2 separate regions of the Homo sapiens genome follow, and region 2 is linked to region 1. A link means that fine-mapping ties the variant in region 1 to the expression of a gene that starts in the linked region. Tissue or cell type: cerebellum. Region 1 holds a variant in brackets; the other region holds the start of a gene. All regions are shown on one strand. Distances are between the middles of the regions.

What was found. PIP is the estimated chance that this variant, and not a neighbour inherited with it, causes the effect.
Region 2: it holds the start of HACL1, and the variant in region 1 is fine-mapped to the expression of HACL1 in cerebellum (GTEx, PIP above 0.99).

What each region holds. Positions count from the first base shown.
Region 1 is chr3:15,547,102-15,555,283 of GRCh38, reverse strand. No RefSeq gene overlaps it. Among named protein-coding and RNA genes, the nearest start is that of COLQ, 29 kb to the right of the region's middle. The variant C/T (reference allele first, on the strand shown) is at 3,952.
Region 2 is chr3:15,596,499-15,604,680 of GRCh38, reverse strand. It overlaps HACL1 (2-hydroxyacyl-CoA lyase 1), which reads left to right and starts at 3,112. Exons shown (of 17, transcript NM_012260.4): 1 at 3,112-3,298; 2 at 3,487-3,591. The coding sequence starts at 3,218. BTD (biotinidase) reads right to left here and starts at 2,936. Exons shown (of 4, transcript NM_001370658.1): 1 at 2,787-2,936. RefSeq lists a silencer at 2,664-2,723 and an enhancer at 2,565-3,207.

The sequences.
Region 1 (8,182 bases):
GCTTTGCTTGTGCTGTTTCTGCTGTGATGCTCTGTACACACCCACCCATTTTTGCCGTGTGGAGTTGGCTATATGCTTCAAGGCCCAGCTCAACAGTCCACTCTTCCATGAAGCCTTCCTTTCTCTGAATGTTCCTGCCGCACCTGGGGTGCACCCCTGTCACAAACTCAGTGTTCACGGTGAGCTAAATTCCCATCTCCCTCACCATCTTGTTTTGGGAAGGAAGTAATCCAGGAAGGGTTTATATCACAAAAGCTATAGCAGACAATTTTAAACAAGGATGCAGGGTGAATGGATGAACTACCAAGGATCAGAGGTCCACCCTGATGCCTGGGTATTAAGTAAGCCCAGCGGTTCTTAGAGCAATGCTGGGGATGGGGGGCTGGTGATCGTGAGGCCCTAAAATGACTGAAGTTTTATTTCCACCCTGGCAAAATGAAGGTCAAAATTAAAATTAGATAGAATTACTGAAAATAAATATTTCTTTCACACTGTTGTGGACTGAGATTTATATCCACTACATTCATCAAACCATTTAATGGTTCGTAGTGCCATCCCTGGCTCCCTACCCTCCATCAGCCACTCCATCCATCCCCTCTCCACACCACCCTACATTACTCTTGCGTTTCAGAATTTTTATGGTTATTTTATTTGTTTATTTTGAGACAGAGTTTCCCTCTGTTGCCCAGGCTGGAGTACAATGGCGCAATCTCGGCTCACTGCAACCTCCTCCTCCTGGGTTCAAGTGATTCTCCTGCCTCAGCCTCCCTAGTAGCTGAGATTACAGGTGCCTGCAACCACACCCAGCTAATTTTTGTATTTTTAGTACAGACGAGGTTTCACCATGTTGGTCAGGCCAGTCTCGAACTCCTGACCTCGGTGATCCACCCGCCTTGGCCTCCCAAAGTGCTGGGATTACAGGCATGAGCCACCAGGCCCAGCAGTTATTTTCACTTGATGATTTTTCCATATTAACCTTAGTAGCAAAAAAATCTGATATTTTAATTACAGTGTATTTTAAAATATAGTGTGTTAACAGAAAATATTCGGTAAGGCCAACATATCAGGAGACTGTTGGTATTGAAAAAATAGTTATTACTCAGAGTTCCCAAGAAGAGGTCTCAGGTAGAAAGAGAATGAGAACTAGTGGGCTAAAACCCTATTGTGATTACTGCAGGAAGAAAGAAGTGAGGCAGGGTAAACAAGTTTAGGATTTGTTTATTTGAACAATGTCGATATGCTCAGGAATGGTGTAGAGGCTGTCCCTAGCTGTCTGAATGCGGGCCTGGGGTGATTGGGTAGGGAGATAATCTCCCAGAATGTGAGAGCACCATAAAGAGGGCCATGAAGAGGGAAGTTGGGGTTATGAGCTCTGGATTGGTTGGCTTGTGTATGAAAGGCGAGTTGTTTGACCTCTCCAAGGTCAGTAAGGCTCAAGCAGGTGAATCATTTGCTATCACTGGGAATTGTCTAACCCTGTGCTGGGCAGTTCTTTCAGGGTCATTGAGGCCTAGTTGTCAGTGGAATTTTAAAGTTTTCATTATATTGATCTTACACAATTTTTGTTAAATTTGTTTCTAGATATTAATCTGTTTTGTTGCTATTTAGTGGCATTGGCAAGTACTTCCAAAACAAGGCTAAATGGCATTGGTGGGCACGCACCATTTTCCTTCTAGGTGTTTTAGAATCAGCACGTCATTTATCTACTTTCCTCCTTCAGGAGGGAGTAAAAGATGACAAGAAAACCTCCCTATTAGGAGTTACTGAGGCTGCAGGGTTGAAATACATGACAAGATCAAAAAAGAATACCTACTACCATTTCCAAGTTGGGGCTTGTGGTCACCTGCAATAACAAGTGACTTATTGGCAATTAACCCCCAGTCAGGGCTAGTTGAAATGCTAGTCAATTACTTGTTGCCTAAACCACCTTCCTTCATAGCACTGAGACCAATGACAAAGGCAAACATATTGAGAAAGCTGCTCCTCTGTAGTCTTCACCTTCAAAATCTCAGACCAGAAAAGAGGGAGGAGGTGGCGCAAGATGGCTGAATAGGAGCCTCCACCAATCATCATCCTTGCAGAAACACCAAATTAACTATCCACACAATAAAGCACCTTCATAAGAAGCAAAAATAAGGTGAGAAATCACAGTACCTGTTTTTAACTTCCTATCACTGAAAGAGGCACTGAAGAGGGTAGGAAAGACAGTCTTGAATTGCTGATGCCACCCCTCCCCCATGCCCCAGCAGTGGTTGTGTGGCATGGAGAGAATCTGTGCATTTAGGGGAGGGAGAGTGCCGTAACTGTGGGACTTTGCATTGGAACTTAGTGCTGCTGTGTCACAGCAGAAAGCATCATGAGGCAGAACTCAGCTGGTGTCCATGGAGGGAGCATTTAGACCACTCCTAGCCAGAAGGGCTAAAGTACTCTGGAGTCCTAAATAAACTTGAAAGACAGTCTAAGCCACAAGGACTTCAATTCCTGGGCAAGTCTTGATGCTGTGCTGGGCTTGGAGCCAGTAGACTTCAGGGGCACACAGTCCAGTGAGATACCAGCCGGGGTGGCCAAGGGAGTGTTTATACCACCCCTTCCCTTGCCCCAGGCAGTGCAGCTCGCAGCTCTAGGAGAGACTCGTTCCTTCTGCCTAAGGAGAGGGAAGAGTAAAGAGGACTTTGTCTTCGAGTTCAGCCACAGTAGGGTAGGGCACCAGGCAGTCCTGAGGCCCCCATTCCAGGCCCTAGGTCCTTGATGACATTTCTAGACCTACCTGGGCTAGACCCCTACCACTGCCTTGAAGGAAAGGATCCAAACCTGGCAGGATTCATCACCTGCTGATGAAAGAGCCCTTGGGCCCTGAATAATCAGCAGTAGTAGCCAGGTGGTACTCATCATGGGCCTTGGGTGAGACTCAGATGTGCTGGCTTCAGGTATGATCCAGCACATTCCCAGCTGTGATGGCTACTGGGGGAGACTCCTTCTGCTTGAGAAAAGGAGAGGGAAGAGTAAAGGTGTCTTTGTCTTGGAGCTTAGGTACCAATTCAGCCACAGTGAATAGAGCACCAAGCAGGCTCTTGGAGTCCCCAGTATGAGGCCTTGGCTCTTGGATGGCATTCCTAGTCCTGCCCTGGGCCAGAGGGGAGCCCAGTGACCTGGAGGGAGAGTCCCAGGCCTAGCAGTATTCATCACAAGCTGACTGAAGAGGACTTCAACCTTGGGTGAACATTGGCAGTGGCCAGGCAGTAGTTGCTGTGTGCCTGGGGTGGTGGTGACCACAAACAGACTCTTCTTGTGGAAATGGGAGGGAAGTGTGGGAAGGACTTTGTCTTGTGACTTGGGTGCCAGCTCAGCCTCAGTAAAATAGTGAACCAGGTAAATTCCGAAGTTTTCTGACTCCAGATCCTGTTCCCGGATGGCATCTCTGGACCCAGTCAAGGCAGAGGGGACCTCACTGCCCTAAAGGGAGGGACACAAGCCTGGCTGGCTTTGTCCAGCTGATTGTAGAGCCCTAGAGCCTTGAGTGAATATACACAGTAGCCAGGTAGTGGTTACCGTGGGCCTTGAGCAAGACCCAGTGCTGTGCTGGCTTCAGGTCTGACCCAGTGCAGTCCCAGTGGTGGTGGACATAGGGGTGCTTGTGTCATCCCTCCCCCAGCTCCAGAAGGAACAGCACAGAAAGATTACATTTGTTTGGGAGAAAGTAAGGTAAGAGAACAAGAGTCTAGGCCTGGCAATTCAGAGAATTCTTCTGGATCTTATCCAAGACCGCCAAGGTCTTGGGGTATTACACAGCATTACTGGGCCTGGGGTGCCCCCTAATGCAGGTTTGGCTGCAGCAGCCAAAAACTTGGATCACAACACACAAGTTCCTTCAAATGCCTGGAAAGCCTTCCCAAGAAGTATAGGTACAAACTGTCTCAGGCTGTGAAGACTACAATAGATACCTGTATTAGT[C/T]CATTTTCATGCTGCTAGTAAAGACATACCGGAGACTGGGAAGAAAAAGAGGTTTAATTGGACTTACAGTTCCACATGGCCAGGGAGGCCTCAAAATCATGGTGGGAGGCAAAAGGCTCTTCTTAAATGGTGGTGGCAAGAGAAAACGAGGAAGAAGCAAAAGCAGAAACCCCTGATAAAGCCATCAGATCTCCTGAGACTTACTATCATGAGAATAGCACAGGAAAGACCAGCCCCCATGATTAAATTATCTCCCCTTGGGGTCCCTTCCAAAACACATGGGGATTCTAGGAGATACAATTCAAGTTGAGATTTGTTGGGGGACACAGCCAAACCATATCATTCTGTCCCTGGCCCCTCCAAATCTCAATGTCCTCACATTTCAAAACCAATCATGCCTTCCAAGAGTCCCCCAAAATCTTAACTCATTTCAGCATTAACCCAAAAGTCCACAGTCCAAAGTCTTATCTGAGACAAGTCAAGTAAGTCCCTTCTGCCTATCAAAAGCAAGCTAGTTACTTCCTAGATACACTGGGGGTAGAGGCATTGGGTAAATACAGCCATTCCAAATGGGAGAAATTGGCCAAAACAAAGGGGCTACAGGGCCTATGCAAGTCCTAAATCCAGGGGGCCATCAAATTTTAAAGTTCCAAAATGATCTCCTTTGACTCCAGGTTTCACACCCAGGTCACGCTGATGCGAGAGTTGGGTTCCCATGGTCTTGGGCAGCTCTGCCCCTGTGGCTTTGCAGGGTACAGCCTCCCTCCTCGCTGTTTTCGTGGGCTGGCATTGAGTGTCTGCAGCTTTTCCAGGTACATGGTGCAAGCTGTCAGTGGATCTGCTGTTCTGGGGTCTGGAAGACAGTGGCCCACTTCTCACAGCTCCACCAGGTGGTGCCCCAGTACGGACTCTGTGTGGGGGCTCTGACCCCACATTTCCCTTCTGCACTGCCCTAGCAGAGGTTCTCCATGAGGGCCCTGCCCCTGCAGCAAACTTTTGCCCAGGCATCCAGGTGTTTCCATGAATATTCTGAAATCTAGGCAGAGGTTCCCAAACCTCAGTTCTTGTGACTTCTGTGTACCCACAGGCTGAACACCATGTGGAAGCTGCCAAGGCTTGAGGCTTCCACCCTCTGAAGCCACAGCCCGAGCTGTATGTTGGCCCCTTTCAGCCATGGCTGGAGCCGCTGGGACACAGGACACCAAGTCCATAGGCTGCACGCAGCACGGGGACCCTGGACCCGGTCCATGAAACTACTTTTTCCTCCTTGGCCCTTCAGGCATGTGATGGGAGGGGCTGCTGCAGAGTTCTCTGACATTGCCTGGAGACATTTTCCCCATGGTTTTGGGGATTAACATTAGTCTCCTTGCTACTTATGCAGATTTCTGTAGCTGACTTGAATTTCTCCCCAGAAAATGGGTTTTTCTTTTCTATCGCACAGCCAGGCTGCACACTGTCCAAACTTTTATGCTCTTCTTCCCTTATAAAAGTGAATGGCTTTAACAGCACCCAAGTAACCTCTTGAATGCTTTGCTGCTTAGAAATTTCTTCTGCCAGATACCCTAAATCATCTCTCTCAAATTCAAAGTTCCACAAATCTCTAGGGCAGGGGCAAAATGTTGCCACTCTCTTTGCTAAAACATAACAAGAGTCATCTTTGCTCCAGTTCCCAAAAAGTTCCTCATCTCCATCTGAGACCACCTCAGCCTAAATTGTATTGTCCATATCACCATCAGCATTTTGGATAAAGCTATTCGACAAGTCTCTAGGAAGTTCCAAACTTTCCCACATTTTCCTGTTTTCTTCTGAGCCCTTCAAACTATTCCAATCTCTGCCTGTTAGCCAGTTCCAAAGTTGCTTTCACATATTCAGGTATCTTTTCAGCAATGCCCCACTCTACTGGTACCAAGTTACTGTATTAGTTCATTTTCATGCTGCTTGTAAAGACATACCCGAGTCTGGGAAGAAAAAGAGGTTTAATTGGACTTACAGTTCCATATGGCTGGGGAGGCTCAGAATCATGGTGGGAGGTTAAAAAGCACTTCTTACATGGTGGCAACAGGAGAAAATGAGGAAAAAGCAAAAGCGGAAACCCCTGATAAACCCATCAGATCTCGTGAGACTTACTATCACGAGAATAGCATGGGAAAGACCAGCCCCCATGATTCAATTACCTCCCCCTGGGTCCCTCCCACAACACGTGGGAATTCTGGGAGATACAATTCAAGTTGAGATTTGGGTGGGGACACAGCCAAACCATATCAATACCTAACTCTTCAATGTGCATGCACTGATGAACATCTGCAAGCATCAAGACCATCCAGGAAAACATGACCTCACCAAACTAACTAAAGCACTAGGGACCAATCCCAAAGAGACAGAAATATGTGAACTTTCAGACCGAATTCAAAAGGAACTCGGTTTTGAGGAAAGTCAAAGAAATTCAAAATAACACAGAAGGAATTCAGAATCTTTTCAGATAAATTTAACAAAGAGATTGAAACGATTAAGTAGAATCAAGCAGAAATTCTGGATTTGAAAAATGCAGTTGACATGCCGAAGGATGTTTCAGTCTCTTAACAGCAGAATTGATGAAGCAGAAGAAAGAATCAGTGAGCTTGAAGACAAGCTACTTGAAAATACATGGTCACAGACAAAAAAAAAAAAAAAAGAAAGAAAGAAAAGAATGAAGCATGCCTACAAGATCTAGAAAGTAGCATCAAAAGGGCAAATCTAAGAGTTATTGGCCTTAAGGCCGGGCATGGTGGCTCACGCCTGTCATCCCAGCACTTTGGGAGGCCGAGGTGGGTGGATGATGAGGTCAGGAGATCGAGACCATCCTGGCTAACACGGTGAAACCCCATCTCTACAAAAAATACAAAAAAATTGGCCAGGTGTGGTGGCACGTGCCTGTAGTCCCAGCTACTTAGGAGGCTGAGGCAGGAGAATCACTTGAACCCGGCAGGTGGAGGTTGCAGTGAGCCAAGATTGTGCCACTGCACTCCAACCTGGGTGACAGAGCAAGAGTCCGTCTCAAAAAAAAAGTTATTGGCCCTAAAGAGGAGGTAGGTAGAGAGAGAGATGAGGGTAGAAAGTTTATTCAAAAGGATAATAACAGCTTCCCAAACCTAGAGAAAGATATTAATATTCAAGTACAAGATGGTTATAGAACACCAAGCAGATTTAACCTAAAGAAGGCTACCTCAAGGCATTTAATAATGAAACTCCCAAAGGTCAAGGATAAGGAAGTCAGCCTACAAGCAAGAGAAAAGAAACAGTATACAATGACGCTTCAGTACGTCTCGCAGCAGACTTTGCAGTGGAAACCTTACAGGCCAGGAAAAAGAGTGACATGACACATTTCAAGTGCTGAAGGAAAAAACTTTTACTGTAGAATAATATAACCAGCAAAAATTTCCTTCAACTGTGAAGAAGAAATACTTTCCCAGACAAAAGCTGAAGGGTTTCATCAACACCAGACCTGTCCTACAAGAAATGCTAAAGGGAATTCTTCAATCTGAAAGAAAAAGACCTTAATGAGCAATAAGAAATTATCTGAAGCTGCAGAATTCACTGTTAATAGTAAACACACAGAAAAACACAAAATATTATAACACTGTAATTGTGGTGTGCAAACTCATATCTTAAGTAGAAAGACTAAATGATGGACAAGTCAAAAATGGCCAGGCACAGTGGCTCTTGCCTGTAATCCCAGCACTTTGGGAGGCCAAGGTAGGCAGGTTGCTTGAGCTCAAGAGTTCAAGACCAGCCTGGGCAACATAGTGAAACCCTGTCACTACAAAAAAATACAAAAAATTAGTTGAGTGTAGTGGCATGTTCCTGCACTTTCAGCTACTCAGGAGGCTGAGGTGGGAGTCACCACCCTGGAGGTCGAGGCTACAGCCAGCCTGGGCGTTAAGTGAGAGCCTATCTCAAAACAAAACAATAACTGCAACAACTGTTCAAGACAGAGTTCAGTAAGGTATAAATTAAAACAAAAACAAAATAAAAAGTAGAGGGAAGAAGTTAAAGTGTACAGATTTTTTATTTTTATTTCTCACACTATACTGATGTAAAAAGTGTAGCATTTTAATTAGTTTTCTCTTTGCTTGTTTATACAAGTGTTAAGTTGTCATCAGTTTAAAGAAATGGGTTATAAGATATTATTTGCAAGCTTCATGGTAACCTCAAATCAAAAAACATATGATTGATAACACAAACAATAAAAAGG
Region 2 (8,182 bases), 49 kb before region 1:
CCAGAGGAAGCAGAGCATACAAATTTGAAAAATCTGCAGACTGACGATGCAGTAGAAAATAAAAACCCATTTTCTAGGGAGAAATTCAAGCTGGCAGCAGAAATTTGCATAGGTAATAAGAAGCTAACTATTAATCACCAAGACAATGGGGAAAATGTCTCCAGGGCATGTCAGAGACCTTCACAACAGGCCCTCCCATCACAGGCCCAGAAACCTAGGAGGAAAAATGGTTTCATGGGTCAGGTCCAGGGTCCCCCTGCTGTTTGCAGCCTAGGGACTTGGTGTCCTGCATCCCAGCCATGCCAGCCATGGCTAAAAAGGGCCAATGTACAGCTCAGGCCTGGCTTCAGACAGTGCAAGCCTGAAGCCTTGGCAGCTTCCACATGGTGTTGAGCCTGCAGGTGCACAGAAGTCAAAAATTGAGGTTTGGGAACCTCTGCCTAGATTTCAGAGGATGTATGGAAATGCCTGGATGTCCAGGCAGAAGCTTGTTGCAGGGGTAGAGCCCTCATAGAGAACCTCTGCTAGGGCAGTGTGGAAGGGAAATGTGGGGTGGGAGCCCCCATACAGAGTCCCTCCTGGGGCACTGCTGGTGGAACTGTGAGAAGAGGGCCACCGTCCTCCAGACCCCAGAATGGTAGATCTACTGACCACTTGCACCATGTGCCTAGAAAAGCTGCACACACTCAATATTAGCCTGTGAAAGCAGCTGGGAGAGGGGGTTGTAGCCTGTAAAACCACAAGGGCAGAGCTGCCCAAGGCTGTGGGAGCCCACCTCTTGCATCAGCATGATCTGGCTGTGAGATACGAAGTCAAAATGATCCAAAGATCATTTTGGAGCTTTAATATTTGACTGCCCTGCCAGATTTTGAACTTGCATGGGGGCTTTAGCCCCTTTGTCTTGACCAATTTCTCCCATTTGGAACGGGTATATTTACCTCACTCCCGTGCACCCATTGTATCTAGGAAGTAACTATCTTGCTTTTATTTATTTATTTTTAAATTTAATTTTATTATTTTTTTTGAGACGGAGTCTCGATCTGTCCCCCAGGCTGGAGTGCAGTGGCCCAATCTCAGCTCACTGCAAGCTCTGCCTCCCGGGTTCACACCATTCTCCTGCCTCAGCCTCCTGAGTAGCTGGGATTACAGGCGCCTGCCACCATGCCCGCCTAATTTTTTGTATTTTTAGTAGAGATAGGGTTTCACCGTGTTGACCAGGATGGTCTCCATCTCTTGACCTCATGATCCGCCCGCCTCGGCCTCCCAAAGTGCTGGGATTACAGGTGTGAGCCACTGCGCCCAGCCACTAGCTTGCTTTTGATTTTACAGGCTCATAGGCGGAAGGGACTTGCCTTGTCTCAGATGAAACTCTGGACTGTGGACTTTCGAGTTAATGCTGAAATGAGTTAAGACTTTGGGGGACTGTTGGGAAGGCATGATTGGTTTTGAAATGTGAGGATATGATATTTGGGAGGGGCCAGGGGCAGAACAGTTTGGCTGTGTCCTCATCCAAATCTCATCTTGAATTATAGCTCCCATAATCCCCACATGTGGTGAGAGGGACCCAGTGGGAAGTAACTGAATCATGGGGAGGGGATTTTTCCCATGCTGTTCTAATGATAGTAAGTCTCATGAGATCTGATGGTTTTATAAAGGGCAGTTCCCCTGCACACGCTCTCTTGCCTGCCACCATGTAAGACATGCCTTTGCTCCTCCTTCACCTTCTGCCATGATTGTGAGGCCTCCGTAGCCATTTGGAACTGTGAGACCATTAAACCTCTTTTTCTTTATAAATTACCCAGTTTTGGGTATTTCTTTATAGCAGTATGAAAATGGACTAACACCGTCCACATATGCAGGGAGGCAACCACTTCACTCTCCTCTGCTTGGGGTGGGGTTGAGGGGTTGAGAAAAAGAGGGGAAGACCTTTTGAAAAGACCCAGGACTACAGTTTGAAAATGTCTGGGTTTAGAAATCGTTTCACTTCCAGTGCTTCTCACTCATTTCACTACCCATGACCCACTCCCCTCTCATCTCTTTACTGTCCACTTATCACTGTTCTTTTTGCTTAAAATGACTCCAAATCCTCAAAAAATTAAAAGTTCCACTGTTTATTACAATTGGAAATTTTATGTTTATTGTCACTGAGCAGAGGGTCTAATGACTCCAAGGCAGTAGTTTCAGATATTGCACATTGCAAACGATTTTCACACAAAAATGTTTTAAAAGGCTATCGGGTGCAGGGCTGGTTGTAGGTAGGGACCCAACCTAAGAATTATGAAACGCCATAGTTCCTAATTTTGGAAAGATATTAGCGGAGAGTAATATGGATTAGTAGCAAGGGCTGGAGAAAACAGTGCTCTATACTACCTTCAAGGTGCTCTTTTCATCGCTTGTGACCCAATGGCTGAATAGTGGGTAGGAAACAGGATTCAGGATCTCAGGCACGGTCTGGATCTACTGACTCTGAGCGTCATTTTATCTCTTGCTGGGGTACACATCTGCTTCTGGATTTAAGTAACGTGCGCTACAATAATTTAAGGACTATAAAACCACAAGGTTATGAGAGCGTAAACCACAAAGCGTGTAAGTAAATGCCTAGAAAACGCAACGCGGTAGCACAGCAGCAACGCACAAACAGCCCCAGCAAACGACGCGCGCCGGGCTTCCCAGCTCCCGGCAGCCTTTGCGCAGCCCTCCCCAAGTCCAACTGGGCGCCCGGGGCGGGGTCTGGACCGCACGCCCTTACCACACCCCCTCCGCGCCGCACCACGCCCCCTCCGTACCTGCTCTTAGCGCGCCTTCCGCCCTGAATATGCGCATGCGCCATTCTCCCTTTACAGCCCCGAAAACGCTCCAGCTGGCCGACTCGGAGACAATGGCGAGAGGCCTCAGAGTTCGGCTTCTTACCTGCTTTGCATAGGCAGCAATCTCCTGCTAGTCCCGCCTCCCTCTGGCATTCTGGCGCGCGAATGGAGGAGCCGAGAAGAGAGCGCAGTTCTGATTGGAGAACGCGCGTGTTTACATTCTCACCTCTCCCGGGAAGTGGACGAATTTAGACCGCCTCTTCCTTCCCGTTGTTTAAGGCAGTTGGTTGCCCTCCTGTCCGTCAGAGGTGCAGTACCAGAGGTGGCGTGCTGCCGATTTCGCGTTTGCCTTGCTGGATGATTCCGCTTGTTTGCCGGCTGCGTGAGTGCTTAGAGCTTTTCGGTGGAAGATGCCGGACAGTAACTTCGCAGAGCGCAGCGAGGAGCAGGTGTCTGGTGCTAAAGTCATCGCTCAGGCCCTGAAAACGCAAGTACGATGGACCTTCCTGGAATGAAAGGCTCCTACGGAAGCTGGCGGGGACCGCGATGTTGTCTTGGAGACGAGTAGAAATGGGCGATGGGGGTCGGGGGGTTTTCCTTTTAGCGCCCGGGAGGGAGGGAAGGATGTGGCGATATGGTGGGGCCTTGGGAGTTTACTCCCCTGTTCTTCGTTCCTCAGGATGTGGAGTACATATTTGGCATCGTAGGCATCCCAGTGACCGAAATCGCCATTGCTGCCCAGCAGCTAGGCATCAAGTACATCGGGATGAGGAATGAGCAAGCGGTGAGTATGGACTCAGGTGGCTGAATGCGTTACTGGGAATGATCAGTAATAGCGGTAGGTATGCATTGCAAACACCCAGATAGCGCTTACCACTCTTCTGCTACTTTACATATATCATATCAATCACTGTTGAATATTAACTGTTGTTACACCAAGTTGACAGATGAGAAAAGACACAGGTTAAGTAAAACTTGCCTTTGGTGACACAGCTGGTAGTAGCAGAGCCAGGGTTTGAACCCACGTATTCTGGGTCTGAGTCCATTCTCTTACTACTATACTGTATGTCATGATTGGAATGGACAGTTTATGAGTAAAGTCTGACTTCCCTATTAGGCTACAAGCTCCATTAGAGCAGGGATATTATTTCTTCACGACACATCTGTACCCCCAGTGCTTAGTGTGGTGCCTGCATAAGAAAGGTGTTCAGAGATTACCTGTGGGATAAATGAGTGAAGGCCAAGGCTTTGTTGTATGATTGGTTCGGGGCAGGGTGGAGGATATCACAAATGGTAGTGCCTTGATGGAAACTCAGATGGCTCAGATCCTAGCCTGATGCTTTTTCCACCACATCATGCTGCCACCTTTCTTAGAGGCTTATTTGGAAGCAGGATAAGGAAGATACGACGTTTTGTCAATCCACTTTAAGTGCATCCTCTGCCAATCCACCTTGCTCTTCTCTCAGTAGTGCGGGCTTGAAAGGTCAAGAATCCACTTCTGTGATATCACATACTCTCAGTCCAGCTGAGGCTAAATATTCCTGCTTTACACTCCCACCGTTGCCTTCTAATTTAAATTCTTGCCTCCTCTTGCCCAAACAACTGCCTGGCCACCCTAAGTGGTGCCTTTTGCCATCATACATGAGTGCCTGGAGGGCAGAAGTTGTGATTCATTTGTTATATCACCACAGTGCCTGGCTTGGTTTGTGCTTTCACGTGGTGTAGATGCTTAATATTATACATTATTTATTAATTGAATGACATTCTTTATTGAATGACATTCTTTATTGAATGACATTCTTTATCTACAAGGTTTGAGATTTGTATTTTTTAATCTTAAAACTAGGAGGTTTTGAGTTTCTGTTGCTTCTACATTTTACTTGTCTTTGTTAGAACAACATTCTGTTCTTTCATCTGTGTGAAAAAATGAAGCTATTGACCTATGAATGGAACCTATACTTAACTGTTTTTGTAGAGATGACATATCTGCCACTGATTTCTTCATACAGCAAACATTTATTGACTAAGTACTGTATACTAAGGATTGTGCTACATAACCTGTAGGAGAGAGGGATGTAAAGAAGGAGTGAGGTTTAGTCTTGATCTTCACGTTGATCAGTCCTGGAAGGTGAGGGTAAGACTTACAGAAAAAGACTCATCTATTATAACTCTCACAATAGATGTAGTAGCACAGAAGGGGTGACTGGTTCTCTTTGAGGACAGAGAAGATTGCCTGTAGAGGTAATGTTAGTTCATGTGGTTCCCTCAAGGTAGGTAAAGGCATGGTGAGCTGTGAGACTGGTAGGTAGGTTGAGGGGAGGTTGTGGGAAATCTAAAAAGAGTTTGAATTTTTTTTTTTTTTTAACAGTAGGCAATGGGGGAGACTAAAGGTTTTTCTAAACAGGTGGGCGATGTAATTAGATTTGTACTTCAGAAAGATGATGCGAGGCATGGTTGTACATGCCAGTAATCCCAGCTACGAAGGGGGCTGAGGCAGGAGGATTACTCAAGTCCAGGAATTAGAGGCTGCCTGGGCAACATAGCACGACCTCTGTCTCTAAGTTTTATTTCAGCCCCTATAAGCTTAGTTGAGGGTTCTTTAGGTCCCATGTGCTGTGTTGGGTGCTGGATACAGAGATGAATGATAGTTCCTGGCTTTAAGGGGCTTACAGCCAAGCTGTGGAGACAGACACAGACAATTGTATTATAAGGTGGTAAGTGCTGTGATAGAGAGATATCCAGGGTGCTATAAAGCCCAGAGAAGGAGTACCCAGGCTCAGCTTCCCACAGGAGATGATGTCTGAGCTGTCCTGAAGGATAAGCAGGCATTAACCAGTTAGGAAAGAGGAGGCAGGCTCCTCTGGAGATGATTCCTAGATTTTGGGCTTACTTGATTGATTGTGTAGATCATATTGTCTGTGACTGAGACTGGGAATATAGAGGGAAGAGCCAGCTTGGAGGAGAAAGGTGATGTTCAATTTTGAACACATGCATTTGAGATGTTGGTGGAACATCCCAGTGCATATGTCCCTCAAGCATCCTGACTCTATGGTAGTCAAAGGAAGACTTAAATGGTACCTGAACTAAGGGTAGTGACAGAATGATTCAGAGGGAACATGAAAACAGGCTAAGGCATTCAGGACATGTTTGTGATAAAGAGAAAGATGTAGTTGGGTGTGACTTCATTGTCTTTGATTAGATCCATAGAGTAATCAAGACATACTGACCAATTGGCCAGCAAGTAGGCAGATTGTCAGCAAGTTCATTGTTCTTGAGAGCTTACTGTGTGTGGGCACTATTTTGAGTGTTTTACACATACGAACTGATTTCATCCTCACAGCAGTGCTTTGAATTATTTTCATTTTATAGATGAAGAAACAGAGATTTAGAGCAACTTGCCAAAATTACACAGTAGAAAGTGGGGAAGCTGGGATTTAAATCAAAACAGATTGGCTCGAGAGTCCACTCTCTAAGTACCATGTACACTGTTCTGCCTGTGAATGGAGGTAGTTTAGTAGAGGAACAGATCTTTTATGGTCATAAAACCAGTTATGGCCAGGCGCGGTGGCTCACGCCTGTAATCCCAGCACTTTGGGAGGCTGAGGCAGGCAGATCACCTGAGGTCAGGAGTTTGAGACCAGCCTGACCAACATGGAGAAACCCCGTTTCTAAAAATATAAAATTAGCCAGGCGTGGTGGTGCATGTTTGTAATGCCAGCTGCTCGGGAAGCTGAGGCAGGAGAATTGCTTGAACCTGGGAGGTGGAGGTTGCCGTGAGCCAATATTGCATCATTGCACTCCAGCCTGGGCAACAAGAGCGAAACTCCGAAACTCTGTCTCAAAAAAAAAAAACAAAACAAAACAAAATAAAACAAAACAAAACAGTTACCTCTCAACTTTTGACATTTCCTACCAGAGGAATATACTTTTTGTTACGTGTTGTTGTATATTTTGCATTGCCTAGCAACATTTCTTACCTAGCTATCATAAGTGGGCAATTCTTTTGGGTGTCTAAATAAAGTGTTCTTATTGCAGCAGGTATTTACATGCCTGCATTTCTTAGGAGTTGTCTTATTCTCCTAATGTGAATTTGGCCTTATGTGCAAAAGGAAAGAGAGATGGGGCCAGTAGAGAATAGCGACACAGGAAAAGAGCAGAGTCTTTGTGCAGGTTCTCAGTGGGTGTATGATAGTAGAGCCAGTTAAGATTATGATCCATAAACATTTCCTTTTTTTTTTTTTCCACATTTATGTCGTTAATGTGGAGTTCTTTAAGACAGTATACTACTTCATTTAAAGCTGAATGAAGGCTAGGAAATACGCAATTCATTATTATTTCTAAAGAAATGAGAAGAAATAATACTGGGAAAAAAATGATGTCCCAGACTAAGAAGAATTTGAGAGAGCACTCAGCATTTTCCCAGGTTATCTTGTGTGCATTTAATTTAGTGCCCCCTCTCTTCCTGATTATGAGCTGAAGTAGAGTTACAAGGTAAAAACTATCCATATGCAGGCCATAAAGGAAATCTCAATAAATCGCCAAGGATTGAAAGCGTGCAGTATATGTCACCTGACCATGTGGAAGTAAAGTGGAACTCAATAAGAGATCACTAAAAAGAATCTCAGACCTTTGGAAATTAAGCAACATACTTTTTGGTATTTTGTAAATATTTGAAAAGATTAACAAAATGAATAAACTTCAAGATAGACTGATTGAGAATAAAAGAGAAAACAGATTACCAATGTCAGGAATGAAAAAGGAGGTATCACTACAGATCCTAATTAACCAATGGGTTGAAGAAGAAATCACAATGGAAAGTAGAAAATATTTTGAATAGAATGATAATGAAAAGATGCAACTCAAACTTGTAACCTATAACTAAAGCAGTTCTTGGAATCATTTTAAACAAATTATTAGTAAAGAAAATTAAAAACCAGTGTTCTAAATTTGTATTTTAAGAAGCTAGAAAAAGAAAAGCAAATCAAATTCAAAATGACTGAAATAATAAATACAAGAACAGAAATCAATGAAATAGAAAACAAACAATAGAGAAAAACCAACAAAAATTTTCGAAGAACTAAAAAAATTTGTTCTTTGAAAAGATGGATAAATTTGATAAACCCCTCATGAGACTGATGAAGAATAAAAGAAAGAAAACAAATTACCAATATTGTTAATAAAAGAGGACATTCCTATTGATCCTGCAGATATTTAAGCAATTGTAAGAGGATGTTTTGAATAACATACATATGAACAAATTTCCTGAAAAACTAAAATTTAGATAACCATTATTTGAAATTTATGTGTAGAACATTTATTACTAAGGTTGGAAATATTTTAATTCTGCCTTTACCACTATGTTCTTGTCTATTATT